Linked DNA regions of Homo sapiens. The protein of the gene in region 2 interacts with the protein of the main gene of each other region in a pairwise test. Each region holds a gene or a part of one and is shown on either strand. Other genes may lie near its edges. The genes, in order: PPDPF and CTSC.

Region 1 (8,384 bases), on a different chromosome or scaffold from region 2:
GTAAACAACCTTTTCCACCAGTTTTAATCAATAGTTCACATCTGTTCCCCTGGTCACCTGCTCCGTCCTGACTCATCCTGGTACCTGTTTTTTTTTTTTTTTTTTTTTGAGATGGAGTCTCGCTCTGTTGCCCAGGCTGGAGTGCAGTGGTGCGATGTCCGCTCACTGCAAGCTCCGCCCCCCGGGTTCCTGCCATTCTCCTGCCTCAGCCTCCCGAGTAGCTGGGACTACAGGTGCCCGCCACCACGCCTGGCTAATTTTTTTTGTATTTTTAGTAGAGACGGGGTTTCACCACGTTTGCCAAGATGGTCTCGATCTCCTGACCTCATGATCCACCCGCCTCGGCCTCCCAAAGTGCTGGGATTACAGGCGTGAGCCATCGCACCCGGCCCCTGGTCACCTGCTCTGACCTAAGTCATCTTTAGCTACCTGTTCCTGTCCTTCCTGCCAAACTACTCACCCCACCACTCTGGGTCACACCCCTGCTCTCTTTAAAATAGTCAATCAGAATTACCTTAGAGTGTGCAGTCCAACCCCACCCAACAGGGGAATGACACAGCCGTAGAGGCTACCTGTGTCAGGAATAAGAACCCCTTCCCCTCCCTTGTCCAGGTGCGCTCTCACCATTGCTCCATCCGCGAGTCGCACCCTTCTATAGAAGTAAAAATTGCCTTGCTGAGAAAATTAATGTTTGAGTGCTATTTCTTTGTGGCACCGAGGAAGCATTTTGTTTCTAACAGGTCTCAGCCATGAAGCTTGTGATGGGTGAGGAAAAGATATGACTTCTCCCCCTACAGAGAATCTGATGAGGGTGCAGCTCCCAGGAACAGGCCATGGACACCCCCAGGGTTGTGAGGTCCTCCAGTCAAGGGGCCCCCTGACCCGAGGCAGGGGACGATGCCGCGGGCAGCCTGTGGCTCGGCTGCTCCCTACTCCCAGCTGCCCCTTCCAACAAGACACCAGCTCCCGGGCAGTGCCCCTCCCCCGCTGACTCCAAAAGCCAGGACAGCTTCTTTCCAAGCAGGGTGGACCCACCCTTGGTCCTGACCCCAAGCCCTCCAGCTCAGCCAAGGGCGGAGCCCCCCCAGGCCATGTGTGGTGGGGACCTGAGCGTGGCTGGGCTCTCCCTTCAACACCAACTCCTGCTACCCTCACAGCTGTGTGTACATGGAGGAGGGTCTCTGTGGGCTTCATCTGGACACTGCAAAAGGCTGCAGGGGGCTCAACTGCCATTAGGAGCAGCCTCCCACTCCTGGGTCCATCGGAGGCTCCCCCACCCAGCCTCAGCACTGACCACCGGCTTGGATGGCTGGGTGAGGCTGCCTCCACCCTGTGGACAGGACAAAGGCTCAGCCATCAGAGGCCACAAGCCAGATGCCTTCCCACCAGCTTCCCACCAACTAGTACAGCTATTTATAGTGCAGTGGAACAGGGTACCAGGCAGGGAGCACCCACTGATCCCCACCCCTCCCCAGAGTCCCTCCCCCACCACTGAACCCCACCCTTTCCCACCCCACGGAGGCCCCTCCTCTCACCATGTCCCTGGCCACACATCAAGTCTCCAGCTATCTCACTGACTCCCACCTGCTCACTAAGCTGCCTCTCAACAGAACTGAGTCAATCCCTGTAGGCTCCTGGCAGAGGTGTGGGGACACCACCCACCTTGGTTATGAAGGAGTCTACTAAGCTCACAGCCCATGCACTCCTGTGTGTGGACCCCCATCCCTGCCAGCCTGCAGCACTCCCGGACTCCAACACTCCATGCCTATACCAGGCCAGAATGATGCAGCCACCCTCACTTTAAGCTGGGCTGCCTGTGGCAGGAAGACCCCTCCACGGTGCCTGCAGCCCCTACCCCTCAGCCTGTCTTGGGGCAACACCCCTATGGGAGGCCCTTGGGAGACACCTACCAGCAGGAACCAGGTCCCTCCAGAGTGAGGGCTTCCCAGCTCACAGCCAGAGGCTACTCCCCGCCCCGCAGGCCCTCGGGTAAGGGGCCTGAATCCCTCAGAGGACCAGCCCTCCCTGCTCCCTTTCCCCCCGCTAAAGGTGGCACGGGGGCCCACCTCAGTGGCTGCCCTGGGTCCTGCTTGTCCAGCTCCAGGACTGCCTGCTGTCCAAGGCTCTCCAGAAGCAGCAGTGAACCCCACCCTTATCAGCCCCAGCAACAGCCTCACAGCGTGAGGAGGCCCAGAAAGGCCTGGGAGCAGGGCCAGCCCCCACAAGGCAGTGAGGTCGGGAGGGATTCAGCCATTTCTCACACTCAAATGGAACCTCGGGCCACACAGCTCAGGCACACACCATCGGGGCTACTGGCTGCTTGGAGTTTATTTTCCGCTTGGTGCCAGGTGCACAGTTCCAGGTGTCAGGAAAGCTAGCGAGTGCTGGGGCCGGGCGGTAGAGAGCGGGGCTCTCACTGGTTTTTGGTGTCTGCTGTGTTGATGCGAAGGTCTGCTTGCTGCAGCCGCCTAGTTTACAGGGTGGGGGGTGGGAGGTGGGGAGGGGGGCGAGGGATGCGGAGTGGGGAGAGGGGCGGGGAGGGGCTCTGGTGGACTAGCGCCTCCGCAGGCCTGGGGCTGGTGGTAACCGCTCAGGTCAGGACGGGGGCCCAGCGCTGGCTGTGCTGGACTGACCGCCGGGCTGCTTCCTCGGGGCGTCCCGAGCCAGGCCACAGGCGGTCATGCTGCTGGAGGCCTGGGGAGGTTCCGAGTGCTCTGCGGACTCCAACACCGTGGCCATGAACGGGAGGGTGGACTTCCCGAAAAAGAAGCTGGCCCACCAATGACCCGGGTCAGCCTTGGGGAGACCTGAGAGAAGCGAAGTGGGGTCTTGATGCTGCCAGCTCCTGGAGGAGCGGGGGGAGAAAGGGGCGATCCTGCACTCACCTGGGGGGTGGGGAATGGCTTCCCCGGGGCACTCGGTACTGCTGCAGGAGCTGTTGCTGGAAGTGGAACCCAGGCGGCCTGGAGAGGAGAGGTCCCGTCAGCAACGCGGGGCGCGGAGCCCCCCAGCCCACCGGCCTTCAGGCCGAGCGCTGGTTCCGCAGCCTGCACGGGGCCGGCACTGGCGCCAGCAGAGCATCCGCGTGGATGGGGGGCAGGGGCTACTCACGCCGGTAGTAGTCGTGGGTGGCCACGAGCGAGCCGCTGGAGGGGATGGCCGCCATGCTTTAGCTTGCTGGCTGGTGGGATCTGCGCATGGGGGTGGAGGAGCCCCTCGGGTCAGCGGCCTTCCGTCATGAAGGGCGCTCCCCAGCGGGTGGAGCCGCCGCGCTGGGTTATTTACCGAGGCGGGGCTCCCCAGCTCCCGGCACCGCCTTCGCCGCGCGGGGCGCGGGCGGCTCCAACCAGCCCAAACCGGCCGAGCGGGTGGAACAAAGGCGCTTTGTGCGCGGGGCCCCGGCCCAGACGTCGGGAACCTGGTGGGCGCCGTCCCAACCCGCCCGACCCGAGAGGAGCCCGCCGGGGACCCCGAGCCCAGCGCTCGCCAGGCGGAGAGGAGAGGAGCCCCCGGCCCAGCCCCGCCCCTCGCCCCCCGCCCCTCGGGCCTGCTCGTCCCACCCGCGCGCGGCGCCCCTCACCTGGGCGGCGACCCCTCGCGGGCCTCGGCGCACGATCACGGGTGGCGGGGACGGGGGCGCTAGGCCACGGAGCCCATTTGCAGAGAAGACCGCGGGAAGCCGCGCCACGACAGAGAGGCGCGCGCGGGGTGCGCACGCGCGGACGCGCCCACTTATATGCGCGGGGGCCGCGGCGCGTCACGGAGGGCGGGGCGCACAGGCTCCTCCCCGGGCCCCACCCGGCCCCGCCCCTTTCCTGGCCCCGGCGAGGCCGCGCCCCCAGCTTCCACCTCGGTGCGACTCTCGCCGTCTGGCTTGGGCTGAGCCCAGCCCTGCGGCGTTCGTCTTGGGGCGGCCCGGCCGGTCCTGGGTCTGCAGGGGTTAAAAGGCCCCGCGCCCGGGTCCGGGAGCCCAGCCCCCGCCCCTCTCCCGGGCCCAGGCCCCCGTCTCGGACGCGTCTCGGAGCCCCGCCTGGTCCAGCCCGCCCGTCCTCTTCAGCCCTTGTGGAGGCGACGGGGGCGCCGGGCGGGCCAAAAAGTGCTACGTGCGCGGAGCCCTCCGGCCCGGCCTCCAGGGACTTCGCAGCCAGAGGAACCTGGATCTCTCCCGAGTCCCCCTCACAGCTCTGGCAGCTCCGGAACCTGCACCCCGGTTGCCCAGCCCCAGGACGCGCCTGCTGCCCGCAGGGGGCGGTGAAAGGGTGGGCGGATGGCGGGGCAGTGGGAGGCGGGGCCCAGTCGGAGAGCGGGGCGGATTTGGGCGGGTGAGGTGAGTCTCCAGTCGCCGGAGGCAGAGGCTGGGCCCCACTGCTCGGAGACCCCATGTTTGGGGAGCCCAGAGCGTTCCCGGCAGGGCCCTGGGGCCCGGGGGACGGCCCGCCATGCCAATCAGGAGGGGGCGCGTTTTCCCTTCCCAGGCAGAAAGGCGTCCTCCCTCTCCTCCTCCCCCCAGCGCAGAATCCTCCCCACACCTCCCTCGGCCCCGCAGGGGAAATCGGCCTGCCCCTACGGAAATCCCGTTTCTTTATACACCCGGTCCTGGCTGGGCGGTGTCTTCCCCGTGGAAGAGAGGGTCCGGGAGGTCCGTGGGGCGGAACAGTCCGAGGGCTTCGGGAGTCAGCCCGGGTGGATTTGTTTCGTGGCTCTCGTTGCTGGCTGGGACGGCCGTGTGCCCGTGTTGTTCCGGAGATCGAGGCCAACGGATGCCGTACTCTGTCCTCGCCGGGTGCTCAGTGAGGACCCACAGCTGGGCAGGGACCCTGGGAGGCCCCTGAGCAAGACTTGGAGGGACGCCCTTGTGCCCCCTGAGCACGTGGGGAAGGCGCTGTCCTGGGCCCTGCACCGCTCTGTGTGTTCATTGCACGAGTGTGGTAAGCACCTACTATGTGCACATGGCCGAGCCAAGCGCAGGGAACGGTAAACCAAGGGAGAACGGCCTTCCCGTGGGGAGCAGTGCAGAGGCTGGCGGGGGCGGGTGGTGGGGAGAGCTCAGGTTTCAGCTGAGGTCTAAGGACGGAGGGCAGGGAACCGCCTGAGCCCCACCTGGGAGGGGGAGCTCGGTGCCGGAGAGCAGTGCCAGGACCTGCGATGGGAGAGGTGTGCAGCCCCGAGGGGTCACTGATGAGGCAGACGGGTCAGTTGGGTTGACACTCAGAGGGTCCTCAGGGGCAGACGCTGAGACGGGGTTTGGGGTTTGGGGTGCAGAGTGAGTACTGGTGATCAGCACCTGGGAAGGGGTGGGGAGGGTGCAGGGCCGGGCAGGGACTGTAGGGGCGGCCTGCGTTGGGCTTGGCTGGCACAGCCTTTGTGGCTTGCTTGGACCCATATGCAGCCGCCCAGGGACGGGAGACCCTGGTGAGGTGTCTGTGGTCCAGGCCCACCCTGAAGGAGCCGTGGGGCCGACTGCCGACCACGCCTGACAGCACGGCCTTCCAGGTCACCCGCTTCCCTCTAGGCTGGCCTGACCCAGCTCACCTCATTCTCAACCTCACCAGTCAACACCGGTCAACATCAGTCACAGAGCGTCTGAAAGGAGGAATTTTCATTTTCCTTTAAAGTGAAAAGGTAAAAACTGCATTTACTAAACCAGGCCGGTGGGGGCTCTGTGAGCCCCTCTGCACAGGAAGCCTCAGAGACGCTGCATGGTGTTCCCGGGGCATCCTGGCCAAGGTGGGAGAACGCAGCCTCCGTGAGGACCCGCGGGATGCCCTCGGGGGCCGCCTCCTGGTTCTCGTCTCCTCTGAAGTGCAGACGACGCTGGCCCACATCCTTGTCGGGCAGAGGGGCTGCCGACTGGCCCCTGGCCATGGCTCTTGCTGGGAGCCGTGTGGCCTGGGCTTGGACCCACATCCACCTCTTGCTGGCTGCCTGCTCTTGCCAGTGGCTGAGCCTGGCTTCTCCCATGACAGTGGCCGCAGACAGAGGGGACCCGTGCCACCAGGCAAGGTGAGCTCAGGGAACGCTAGCTCTCCTCTCCCTTGGCTCTGAGGGGTTCGGCGGTGCCCTTGGTGTGTCTGGGGGCTTTTGGGAAGTCCCAGGTCTGGGCTCTGGGTCAGGAAGCAGGAGCGAGGAGAGACACTGCACCCGAGCCTCCCCGGCTGTAGGAAATGGGGGCAGAAAAGCTAAGCGGACGGAAGATGCATTGTGCGCAAGCTATAGCAGGCCGGTTCAGGCCCGGTTGCTGCTAGGATGTGATCATTGGCAGGGATGAGATTGACGGGGACGGTCAGCTGGAGAGGACAGGGCACAGCTGGACGAGGGCGGGGACGGCCACAGGCTTCCCACAGGGCGGGAGGGAAAGGCTTCCAGTCCCACTTGTAAGGGCTGCCTGCCACCCTGTAGCCACTGTCTCCTCCCTTGTGGACGGGACGATGGTGGCACCTTGTTATGGTTGGGTTAACATACATATGTTAAGAATGCGTTAACCCCAGCGTGTGGGGAGGACTAGATGGGAGAGGCCCCTAGTGCGGAGGCTCACAGCCTTGCTCGGCCCCTGGGAGCTGTCGCCACCTGCACTGTGCTCCTCCCACAGGTGTCTGGGGGCGAGGTGAGAGTTCTGCCAAAGCCGGAGCCAGGGTTGGACCCCCGGAGCTCGTTGGTCGGCCCCTGGAGGGAGAGTGGTGTGTTCACACCACGGCCCTGGTGGCCCAGCTCTGCCCATCTTCATCCCAGGTGGCAGCTGCTGCCCAGCTCTCTGGCCAGTGCCTCTTAGATGGTGTCACCACCTGCAGAAGAAAACAGAAGTGCTGACTAATATTTGATGAAGGCCTGCTATGCCGGCGGCACCTGATGTGGCAGGTGAAGTCCGGGGGGCAGCAGCCAAGGCTGCCTGTTCCTCAGTGTCCCTGCGCGTGAGACGGGCATAGCTAACTCCTGTGGCCACCTTGAGGGTAAGATGCTTCCTGCAGGTGCTTGGACCAGTATCTGGCACGGGGCAGGTGCTCAGCGAAAGTTCCTTATTAATCCCTGTACCTTTCACTGTTGGAAGTAACTCAGGACATTGGCTTGGTGGTTACACAAGCACTGTGGGAGAAGGTGGTGTATCTGTTCACCCTGGGTCCCAGTGGCTGAGGCAGAGCCAGCCATGCAGGAGGCAGGCGTCCAGTATGTATATTGGATGGAAGGTTGAATTGCATAATAAAATATATTAAAGATTTCCAGAGTGGAGGGGTGAGGAGGTCAACAAACCCTCTCTCCAAAATGTACCTGTAAATCTAAACAAAAGTCAGAAACAACCATGTCAGTGCTTTGGAATTTAACCAAAGGCAAACAGCAAACCAAGGAGTGTTTATTCATCAAAGAGCCACGCGCTGTGGTCCCAGCCACTCAGGAAGCTGAGGCAGGAGGGTCACTGGAGCCCAGGAGCTGGAAGCTGCAGTGAATTACGATGGCACCTGCTCTCCAGCCTGGGTGACAGAGAGAGACCCCATCTCTAAAAAGAATAAAACCCTGGACTTAGGATAAAATCCAAAATTACTTGGCATAACTGAACCAGGAAAATCTCAACTTAAATGGAAAACGAGGCCGGGCACGGTGGCTCACGCCTGTAATCCCAGCACTTTGAGAGGCCGAGGTGGGCGGATCACGAGGTCAGGAGATCGAGACCATCCTGGCTAACATGGTGAAAACCCATCTCCACTAAAAAATTACAAAAAAATTAGCCGGGCGTGGTGGCGGGCGCCTGTAGTCCCAGCTACCTGGGAGGCTGAGGCAGGAGAATGGTGTGAACCCAGGAGGTGGAGCTTGCGGTGAGCCAAGATCGCGCCACTGCACTCCAGCCTGGGTGACAGAGCGAGACTCCGCCTCAAAAAAAAAAAAAAAAAAAAGAATAAAACCCTACACTTTAGGATAAAATCCAAAATTACTTGGCATAAGTGAACCAGGAAAATCTCAGTTGCTGGGCATGGTGGCTCATGCCTGTAATCCCAGCACTTTGGGAGGCTGAGGCAGGCAGATCACCTGAAGTCAGGAGTTTGAGACCAGCCTGACCAATATGGCAAAATCCCATCTCTACTAAAAATACAAAAATTAGCCGGGCATGGTGTCGGGCACCTGTAATCCCAGCTACTTGGGAGGCTGAGGCAGGAGAATCTCTTGAACCTGGGAGGTGGAGGTTGCAGTGAGCTGAGATCACACCATTCCAGCCTGGGCGACAGAGCAAGACTCCATCTCCAAAAAAAATAATAATAATAATACAAAATTAGCCAGGCGTGGTGGTGCATGCCTGTAATCCCAACTACTCAGGAGGCTGAGGCGGGAGAATTGCTTGAAACCTGGAGGTGGAGGTTGCAGTGAGCTGAGATTGCGCCATTGCACTCCAGCCTGGG
Region 2 (9,538 bases):
TATTTTGAGAACAGCTTATTTTTCGTGGAAAAAAAAAATAGTGAACCTATCTGGGAAAAGTTTCCTATTGCATCTTCCTCCTAAGCTACCACCATACAATATATTACAGACTCTGAGAAGTTCTGAAATAAAGAAAACTATTTAATACATTCTATATTTATTCAACTACCAGAAAGAACTGAGAAGAAACAGCTTACTAATTTCAACCCTAATGCTCACTTTGATCTGTTATTAGTGGCTGTATGGAACATTGCTGAAGCTTAACAAGATAACGCGACACAACTGATGAGCAATTCCTACCTGGCAGATGTGTGGGTCACTGCTGGTTCATTATAAAGTTTGGAAAATGCTAATATAAGATAAACCTATGGTGCTTTCAATACTTGTTCCCAGTTCCCTTTTTCATATCTCACTTCTGGTATTTAAGAGCCAAGTAACAGAGGAAGGAAAAGGGGAAAGAATATTATGTTAAAATGCAAGGAAGGGTAAGTCTCTATTAATTTTACTCTCTAATCACCTATTTCTTCATCAACATTTTAGACATTTATGGATCCAGTGTGAGCAATGATTTAAACATCTATTCTGAAAATGTGAAGAGAATGTAAAGAGTGAATAAGATTCTCTCCTCCTCAGTGAATAGTCTATTAAGACTATTTTAATAGAAGCCAGTTTTACAAAGCTGGGTCATGTCAGATAAGTGATGAGTATGTCAATTTCTCTGTAAAAGCCACCTTCTCTGTGGAAGACAGATCTAAGCTGCTGTGGCCTCACATGTTTCTCTCTTGAGGGATTCTTTTCAAGAAAAGAATAAGCAACCTAAGGCAGCCTAACTACTTTACGAATGTGAACTGAACTTGAGTCAACCTTTTTTTTAGCTGGGTCTTTACCCTTTTCGGTTCACGTCTACTTAGGTTACAAGTAGCATTCTTGGGAGAGCTGATTTGACATGTGAAAACAGAACATAATAAAGTAGAAAATTACTCACATAAAATAGTGCAGACAACTTAGAAACAGCAGACAAGCAGGCTCAAGCAAGAAATTCATAAGAAAACCATAATCTCTCCAGTCACCCTCTGATGAATAAATAGGCATTAATTTGCATAAGCCATCAGGAAGTGAGGAAGCTTGCTTTTAATAAGAAAGTTAGAAATTTTTCAATGGAGCTCACCCAGTTTGTTCCTCAGATGTGGCAAATCATATATCCCCACAGTTCCCAGCTGCATGAACAAATGACTGATAAAATCAGTGACATCCTACAAAGAGTTTACAATGGTAAACTGAGTCATTATGTTGAGATTAAGCATCATCATGAAAGAAGACATAAAATAGTTAGGCAGGCACTCAGTGCTAAACTTCTGATACTTTTCCTCCACTGAAATACTCTTACAAGTAAACCCAAAGTTGTTTAAAACAAAACAAAAAAAAGACAAAATGCTGAGCTTGATATATTGAATCCAAATTTTAAAAAGTATACCTATCTCAATAAGTCTTCTAAAATTGTTATATCTTAATAATGAACCCAGAAGGCTCAGTGAAAAAATGTCACAATATTCCCAAATCTTTTATTGTAGAAACACAGGCGACATTTCTGGCTGTGTGATAAGCTTGAAATTTATTAATCACTAGCACACAAAGTGAGAAATTAAACCCTCTAGTATGGATTTCTCAACATAGAGTTCTTGTTTCTGTTTGTTTTGTTTTTGAGACAGAGTCTCACTCTGTCACCCAGGCTGAAATGCAGTGGCACAATGTCAGCTCACTGCAACCTCCACCTCCCGGGTTCAAGCGATTCTTCTGCCCCAGCCTCCCAGGTGGCTGAGACTATAGGCGTGCACCACCACACCCGGCTACTTTTTGTATTTTTAGTATAGAGGGGTTTCACCATGTTGAGGCTGGACTCCATCTTCTGACCTCAGGTGATCCACCAGCCCCAGCCTCCCAAAGTGTTCTTGTTTTGAGTAGCAACTTGCTTTAGAAACACTGATGGTCATTTTTTTTAGCTTATAGTTCTATTAAGATTGGAGCCTTTCAAACAAGAGCTCAATTAGAAAGCCCTAAGATTTGCTTCACTATCACCAAATAAAATTTCCAGCCATAATGAGTCTACTTCCCCTCTACATATTTCCTCAGCCCTTGAGTAGCTTAATCTTCAAAATAAAATCTGAGTTCCTTCTCTACTGCTCCCTTTTAGAGTCAGTTTCTTTTACTGCCTCAGAGAAAGTAAAATGAGAAACAGTAGGTTAGAAAGCCTATTCAGGCTGGGCGTGGTGGCTCACACCTGTAATCCCAGCACTTGGGGAGGTCCAGGCGGGCGGATCACTTGGGGTCAGGAGTTCAAGACCAGTCTGGTCAACATGGTGAAACCCCATCTCTACTAAAAATACAAAAATTAGCTGGGCGTGATGGCGGGCACCTGTAATCCAATCTACTCTGGAGGCTGAGGAAGGACAATCTCTTAAACCCAGGAGGTGGAAGGAGCGAGGGCCTGGGAGACAGAGCTAGACTCCATTTCAAAAAAAAAAAAAAAAAAAAAAAAAAAAGCCTATTCAACAGGAGGTCATTTTTTGGAGCTTAGTTTGTTTTACAGGACTTCCTGTCTCTGGGCAATTTGGTGGAGAGAATGCTACACAGAGGAGCTTTATACATGATCATCATTAAAAATGAACAAAGTACATAAGAGCATAAAGAAGAAAAAATAATCACATATCCAGCCATCATGTAAAGTCAGACATAATTAAGCATTTTCACAGTATTCTGTTTCGTGTTGTTACATTGTGTGTGTGTGTGTTTTGTTTTGTTTGGAGACAGAGTCTCACGCTGTCACCCAGGATGGAGTGCAGTGGTGCAATCTCAGCTCACTCCATGCTCTGTCTCCAGCGTTCAAGTGATTCTACTGCCTCGGCCTCCCAAGTAACTGGGACTACAGGCGTGCGCTGCTATGCCTGGCTAATTTTTGTATTTTTAGTGGAGATGAGGTTTCACCACGTTGGCCACGCTAGTCTCCAACTTCTCAAAGTGCTGGAATTAAAGGCAGGAGCCAAGCTAGCCTGCATTGTGTTTTTATATAGGAGATTGCCTGCAGGTACTTTTAAGAAGTGCAAATTTGCTAAAGTGTGCCAAGTACAATGAAATGGTAAATGCTACTAAAATCTGATAATCTTAGAAACTGGCCTGTAGATAGTATTGTCTTTTGTTTTGGCCAGCCCAGTGTTTTAAAGGAAATTTGAATTTGAATGCCTCTAAGACTGTTTCCATCTTGCCACAGGCCTGATTACTCCTTATTAGTTTACATAAGGTTATTTCAAATGCTTAGATACCCACCCACCTGAGTGGGCCCTAAATGTAATATGCAACTCCCATAAAGTGCTCAGATAATAAAATGCCTGGAGGATGCTGAGTAAGAAAAAATCTTTCATTTTTTTATTATTATTATTATTTTGAGACACCCAGGCTGGAGTGCAATGGTGTGATCTCGGCTCACTGCAACCTCTGCCTCCTGGGTTCAAGCAATTCTCCTGCCTCAGCCTCCTGAATAGCTGGGATTACAGGCATGTGTCACCGCACCCAGCTAATTTTTGTATTTTTAGTAGAGACGGGGTTTCTTCATGTTGGCCAGACTGGTCTCGAACGCCTGACCTCAGGTGATCGCCTGTCTCGGCCTCCCAAAGTGCTGGGATTACAGGTATGAGTCACCGTGCCTGGCTGAAAAAAATATTTTAAAAACATACCTAGTACCTCCTGCTCAACTCAAACTATGCAAAAACTTTAGATGTCAAACTTTTATTCCTTCCAAACTTTTATCTAGCTTGAAGTCACATCCAAATATATGTATCTCCATCCCTACTATACCCCCAATTTCTCAAGCTGTTAAAACCAAGTTTTAAAATGGCTTAGAAATCTCAAATCATAAAAAATGTTTCTCTTTCAGATAAGCCCTGAATAAACAGAACTTAATAAAGCAAGTTTCTAGCAATAGGAGCTATTCTGATTGATTCCGAAGTGGAATGCCGAGAATGGCAAAGAAGCTGTGTCTCTCCTGGTGAGATGCAGGATGCTGAGGGAAGCAGAAGGTAAAAGCAGGAGCCTAAAAGAATGCTGTGGTGTGGAAAAACTACTCAACGTGCTTTTTCCTATTCTCAGTCAGCAACAACAATCAATACAAAAGACTTCGGTGACCCCAAAATATGTAGGAAGTTCTCCCCACCAGCAAGCAAGCAATCAATTCTGCAGCAGACACCAGCTCAGTGCCCTCCAGTACAACTCCAATGCTACCTACCAGGAGACAGTTTCAGATCCCGTAGGTTGAGGGCTTAGTCCCCAAGACTGCCTGCCCACTTTAGACACCAGTCTCAAGTCCAGGCCTCCAGAACTTCTGATGGACTGGCTTCAAATTGGGGTTCCCATAACCCCCTCTTTGGGTTCAATTAATTTGACAGAGTGGCATAAAAACTCAGGGAAACATGTTTATGATTTATTACAAAGGATATTTGAAAGGATATAAATACACAGGCACTTGAAGAGATACATAGAGCAAGTTCTGGAAGGGTCCCAGACACAGGAGCTTCTGTCCCTGCGGAGTTAGGGTGGACCACCCTTCCAGCATGATGAGTTCTTCTTCACCTTCCTGTCAGACCCTACATGTTTAGCGCTTCAGAATTCCCTCAAATCTGTTCTTCTTGGGCTTTTATGGAGCGTTCATTGAATACACATGATTAAAGCATGGATAACCATGTTAAAATATAATTAGGTTATAAGGACATGATCTAAACCTAACAAGGCCTGTCTGTTCAGATTCTTCTTGGTGTCTCTGTGCAGTGTTCCTTCTGCTATGGTATGGGGCAGAATACTCTCTGGTATGAGGGTCTTAGAAACCATAATCAGATTAGAGTTCTGCAGTGGGCAGATGAAAGGAGGGTAGGAGAAGATCAGAGAGAGAGATTCTGGTTTCTGTAACAAGGGTCTTGGGAGTGAGTTATGAGCCAGGAACCATGGACAAAACCTATATATGTCATAACATACAAATACTCTGCATGTACCAACTACTCAACAAACTCGAGCAGCAAGAACAATAAGAAACAATCTACTTCAAGCATATCTGAAGCATATATAAAGAGGATAAAAGGAAGCAAGTTGTAGGGTTCCAGTCAGTGGAGAGGCGTGAAAATCCAATTGATTTGTAGGATAACAACAACGATGGCAGGTAAGCATGGCAAGAATTTGTCAAATATTTCTGTAATGGCAGTAGGTTGAGTATGTTTTCGTTTATGTAAGACTCTTTGAATAGCAAATACTACTCAAGTTTTGATGTTTTCTCTTTTTACAAAAATAAATTTTAATGTAAAAGATGCTTTCTAATTCTATAGGAACAATTCTCACATGCAATACTTATTACATGGGCTTGTGTTTTCCTTGAGTTACGCATCCTTTCAAGCACGGTTTCCCCAGCTGCAGGAAATACCCTGATGCTTATGGTAAAATCTGTAAACTTTCTGTATTAATAAATGTCACCCATCAACAGTGGATGACTTTATTATTCAAAGTCAACTCCATCTTAATATCTTTCTTAAGTTTTTAAACTCTGTTTCCCATCACTCTTGCAATTGGATTTACTAAAATAACATGGTATTTTATCACTTTGCAAGCTATGTTTATCTGGAACTACCTGATTATATTAAGTTTCAAAAAGAAGTATCCTATTATATTCTACTCTGCCTAAGGAAATTATGGTGCTTGTCATAAGACCTAACTACTGACCAGAGTGGTTGATTTTTCTGCAGAAAAAGAAAACATGGCCCTGATAATGGTTTTGTCAAATGGGCACTTTAAAATAGACATATCCTGAAATCAGTAGGGCAGGAGTATTTTTTCTATTGTTATTCCTAATGAAAGAATAAGGATTCGATCAATGCCATCCAGAACCATATGATTAGGCAGGGTTCTACCCTCCAACAGCATATATATTAATTCTTTCCAACTCATGGTTGGGAACACATATAACTTTATTTGGCTTTAAAAAGTGATTTTCTATTGACCTAATGTGACTAATGTTCTTAGGCAATGGCAAAACACCAAATGTGCTTACACCGTGATTCACAAAAAGTGATACAATTCCTCATTCAGCCACCAGCTAATTCCCTCTGTCCCTACCAGCTTTGGACTACTATTTAAGCTAAGAACTAACTGATGAAAAAATAATAAAAGAAGAAAACTGCTTTTGTCTATATCTATTACATCTCTGGTAATTAAATAATGATTTTAGAAGTTTCCCCACCAGTTTCTCCAATTCTGCAGAATTTAAGAATCAAAAGTTTTCTAAGTCAAAAGAATAAACTATGTACTTGTCTCTTTTTACCTATTCCTCATCTCCTAAATAATTTATTTAACCTATTTCCCAACTGAATTCCACTTCATTCATTCATTTTTTTTGTAATAAATTGACTAGGTGTCTATTGTGTGTCAAAGAAGAAGGGATAGAGACAGAGGAAAAGAAAATGACAAAAAATTATGTACAAGGTTTATGGTACATGGTAACAATTGCCTTGAATATCTCTTCCTTTGCACATGCATTCCACATGCAATTGATTCTTAATCTGAAGTCAAAGAACCTTTGAAGGGCTGTGACAGAGTAACTGTAAGAGGTCTGCAAAGGCCTAGGCTCATCAACGTATACACCAAAGATTATTTTCAGGTTAAATATACCACATATACATTACAATTTTAAAAATTTATATAGATACTATTGTAAGTATGTTTTTTACAAAAAAAATGCGTAGCATCTGGAAATGATACTAAAAATAGTTAACAACTGGTTAAGCATGGGTTTCCACTAATTCAGTGGACTGGTGGCCATCAACAGCTAGCATGGACAAACTGGTTTCCACCAGCTGCATATCACACCAGCAAATCCAGTTGAGGAAAGGCAACCTCTTCCTCTCTATTTCATCTTTTTTTTTTCCATATTAAAGAAAGGTCCTTATTTTAAAAATATTTCTGGGAGTTATTATTCTAAAAAATATTGTAAACTTGCTTGGACCGCCATAACCTTGTGACAAACCACAACTCCCATGAGAAATTATAACAAGTTTAGAACTAGGCCTTTGTTGGTGCTTTGTCTTTTATCATATTTAACAGAGTTATTCCCTACTTTCCCACTTCTTCCCAGATGTTTTAAAGGCTGTAAACCTTTCACCATGAAAAAGTCTGTCTTAATTTATACTCTATGTATAATGAGAAACGCCTAGTTTCAGGCTTATGTATCCAATTTACTTGAACCATTTAATATTTAGCTTACAAGAAAAGTTCCAGCTTGTGAAGAACAAATGAAATGGGCTGCAATTTGTGCTAAACTATTTTAACCCTGAGTATGTTTGCAATTGGAAAAAGTGTGTTATGAGAATGAACAATAGTTCTTTCCTAATGAGAGAAGGAAACAAGCTGGGTTGACTTGGCTACCTTTCACTTTAACCAGCCTAAGGGAGTAACTCCTAGGTTCTCTCTTTCTGTTAGTTTAGAAGAAAAAATTACTCAACATATTTAGTACATTTAAGATAATGAATCATTTAGGCCTATCACTACCTCAGCCAACAGGTAGTGATAGGAAGGACAGCATAGTAACTGCAAGAAAACAAAATGTGTAATCTCTCTATCTTTCCTACAGATTTAGAACAAAGCCAAATGACTATGGCAACATTTAGAAATAAAGTGGTAGTAATAAGGAAAATAAATTAAGAATTTAGTCATACTTACCAAAATGTAAATTTTAAACATAATTTATACATATTCAAATGTAGCACTGGTATTTTGTAAACCTACTAAAATCATAATTTTAAATAAAGTGGCAAAATTATACCAACTACTACTACTCTTGGGAAGAGTGGTGTCAATTCCGGTCATCTTCTTAATCTAAAATTAAAATTCTGAGGGTCTACTAATCAGAAGAGGTTTCAGATATCAAATCATTGAAAATGTAAATCCAACTTCCAACAAAACTAACCTTAAAAAAGGCAAACCACTTGTAGTCATTCAACACAATCTCAAAGCCTTGGTTGTAAATGATGGTGAAATGGCCAGAATTGCCAAGGTCATCATATGCTGTATCCAGCTTCTGAAGGTACACCACTACTTTTTTTTCTTGTGGTCCTAAAGAAAAAAAAAAAAAGCACAATAAAGGAAAATTATTTGGATTTCAATAGGGGAAAGAATCCCCCAATTTCAATTTTAATTGTGCTGCTTTCCTTTCATGCTACCCAGTTTGAGCACAGTCTGCCTAGTGAAGAAACCAGAGGCTCCATCTTGTTGCCTCAAACAGTTCCTGCTCCGAGGCAAGACTGTGAAGTTAGGCTCTAAAAATTTGAGATAATGCAAGCAGAAGCAGTGGCTCACGCCTGTAATCCTAGCACTTTGCGGGGCTGAGGTCAGAACTTCAAGACTAGTTTGGGCAACATAGTGAGACCCTGTCTCTACAAAAATAATTTTTAAAAATTCGCTGGTTATGGTGGTGCATTGCCTGTAGTCCCAGCTATTTGAGCGGCTGAAGCTGAGGTGGAAGGATTGCTTGAGCCCAGGAGTTGGAGGCTGCAGTGAGCTATGATTGCACAACTGCATTCCAACCTGGGCAACACAGTGAGACCTTGTCTCAAAAAAGAGAGATATGCTATGCAGCCCAGCAGGCAGGGAGACCCCCAAAACTACAGTACCTTTCCAGAGCATCCCAACACTGAAGAAATTTTTCCACTGAACAAAAGGAGAAATGGGGAATGTTGAAAATTACAGGCTTCCAGAAACGGAGAAAAGGCAAAATGCTAGTCAAAAGTGGGAAATGCAAGAATAAAAGGTATGACAACAAAAAGATAAATAAACAGACTATCAGATCCTAAGGAAGACAATGTGCTAAGCCCAGGAGAAGACACAAAATGATCTATTCGGAGAAGAAATGGGGTACCTTTCTCCTCAAAGGCTCTACAGTTTAGAACCTCATAATCTGAATCCTTCCAAAGTTTATTCAGCAAACTAGAGGTCTGTATCCTATAAAACCAATTAGTGCTGATAGGAATGATACGTTTAACCTTCATAGATGAGGGCTCAGACCTGTGGGTGCCTTTAATTACTGAATTAAGGCCAAAGGTAATTTTATAGGCAGAGCCTTCCTGAAAATGATTCAGCTGTGTCCATCTGGAGAGTTGTGTATTTTAAAGTTTTTCCATGTTTGAGAGTAATGCTCTGACATGGGAGATTGCATGTGACAGGGCAGTGCAAATCCTGATCTCTTTCTGCCCCAACCTTCAAACTCAAATTTAAAAAAAAAAAAAAAAAAAAGGCCAGGCGTGGTGACTCCCGCCTGTAATCCCAGTACTTTGGGAGGCCGAGGCGGGCGGATCACGAGGTCAGGAGATGGAGACCATCCTGGCTAACACAGTGAAACCCGTCTCTACTAAAAATACAAAATATTAGCCGGGCGTGGTGGCATGTGCCCGTAATCCTAGCTACTCGGGAGACTGAGGCAGGAGAATCGCTTAAACCCGGGAGGCGGAGGTTGCAG

The links.
Region 1: the proteins of CTSC (region 2) and PPDPF interact in a two-hybrid assay, tested with the Homo sapiens proteins (one study listed by BioGRID).

Annotation. Positions count from the first base shown.
Region 1 is NC_000020.11:63,516,091-63,524,474, reverse strand, and holds PPDPF (pancreatic progenitor cell differentiation and proliferation factor), read right to left. Parts: upstream 3,711-8,384; 5' UTR 3,581-3,710; intron 3,192-3,580; 5' UTR 3,167-3,191; coding exon 3,112-3,166; intron 2,964-3,111; coding exon 2,886-2,963; intron 2,808-2,885; coding exon 2,596-2,807; 3' UTR 2,269-2,595; downstream 1-2,268. UniProt on the Homo sapiens protein: Probable regulator of exocrine pancreas development.
Region 2 is NC_000011.10:88,326,944-88,336,481, forward strand, and holds part of CTSC (dipeptidyl peptidase 1 isoform a preproprotein), read right to left. Parts: intron 8,140-9,538; coding exon 7,994-8,139; intron 1,254-7,993; coding exon of another isoform or gene 1,169-1,253; intron 1-1,168. UniProt on the Homo sapiens protein: Thiol protease. Has dipeptidylpeptidase activity. Active against a broad range of dipeptide substrates composed of both polar and hydrophobic amino acids. Proline cannot occupy the P1 position and arginine cannot occupy the P2 position of the substrate.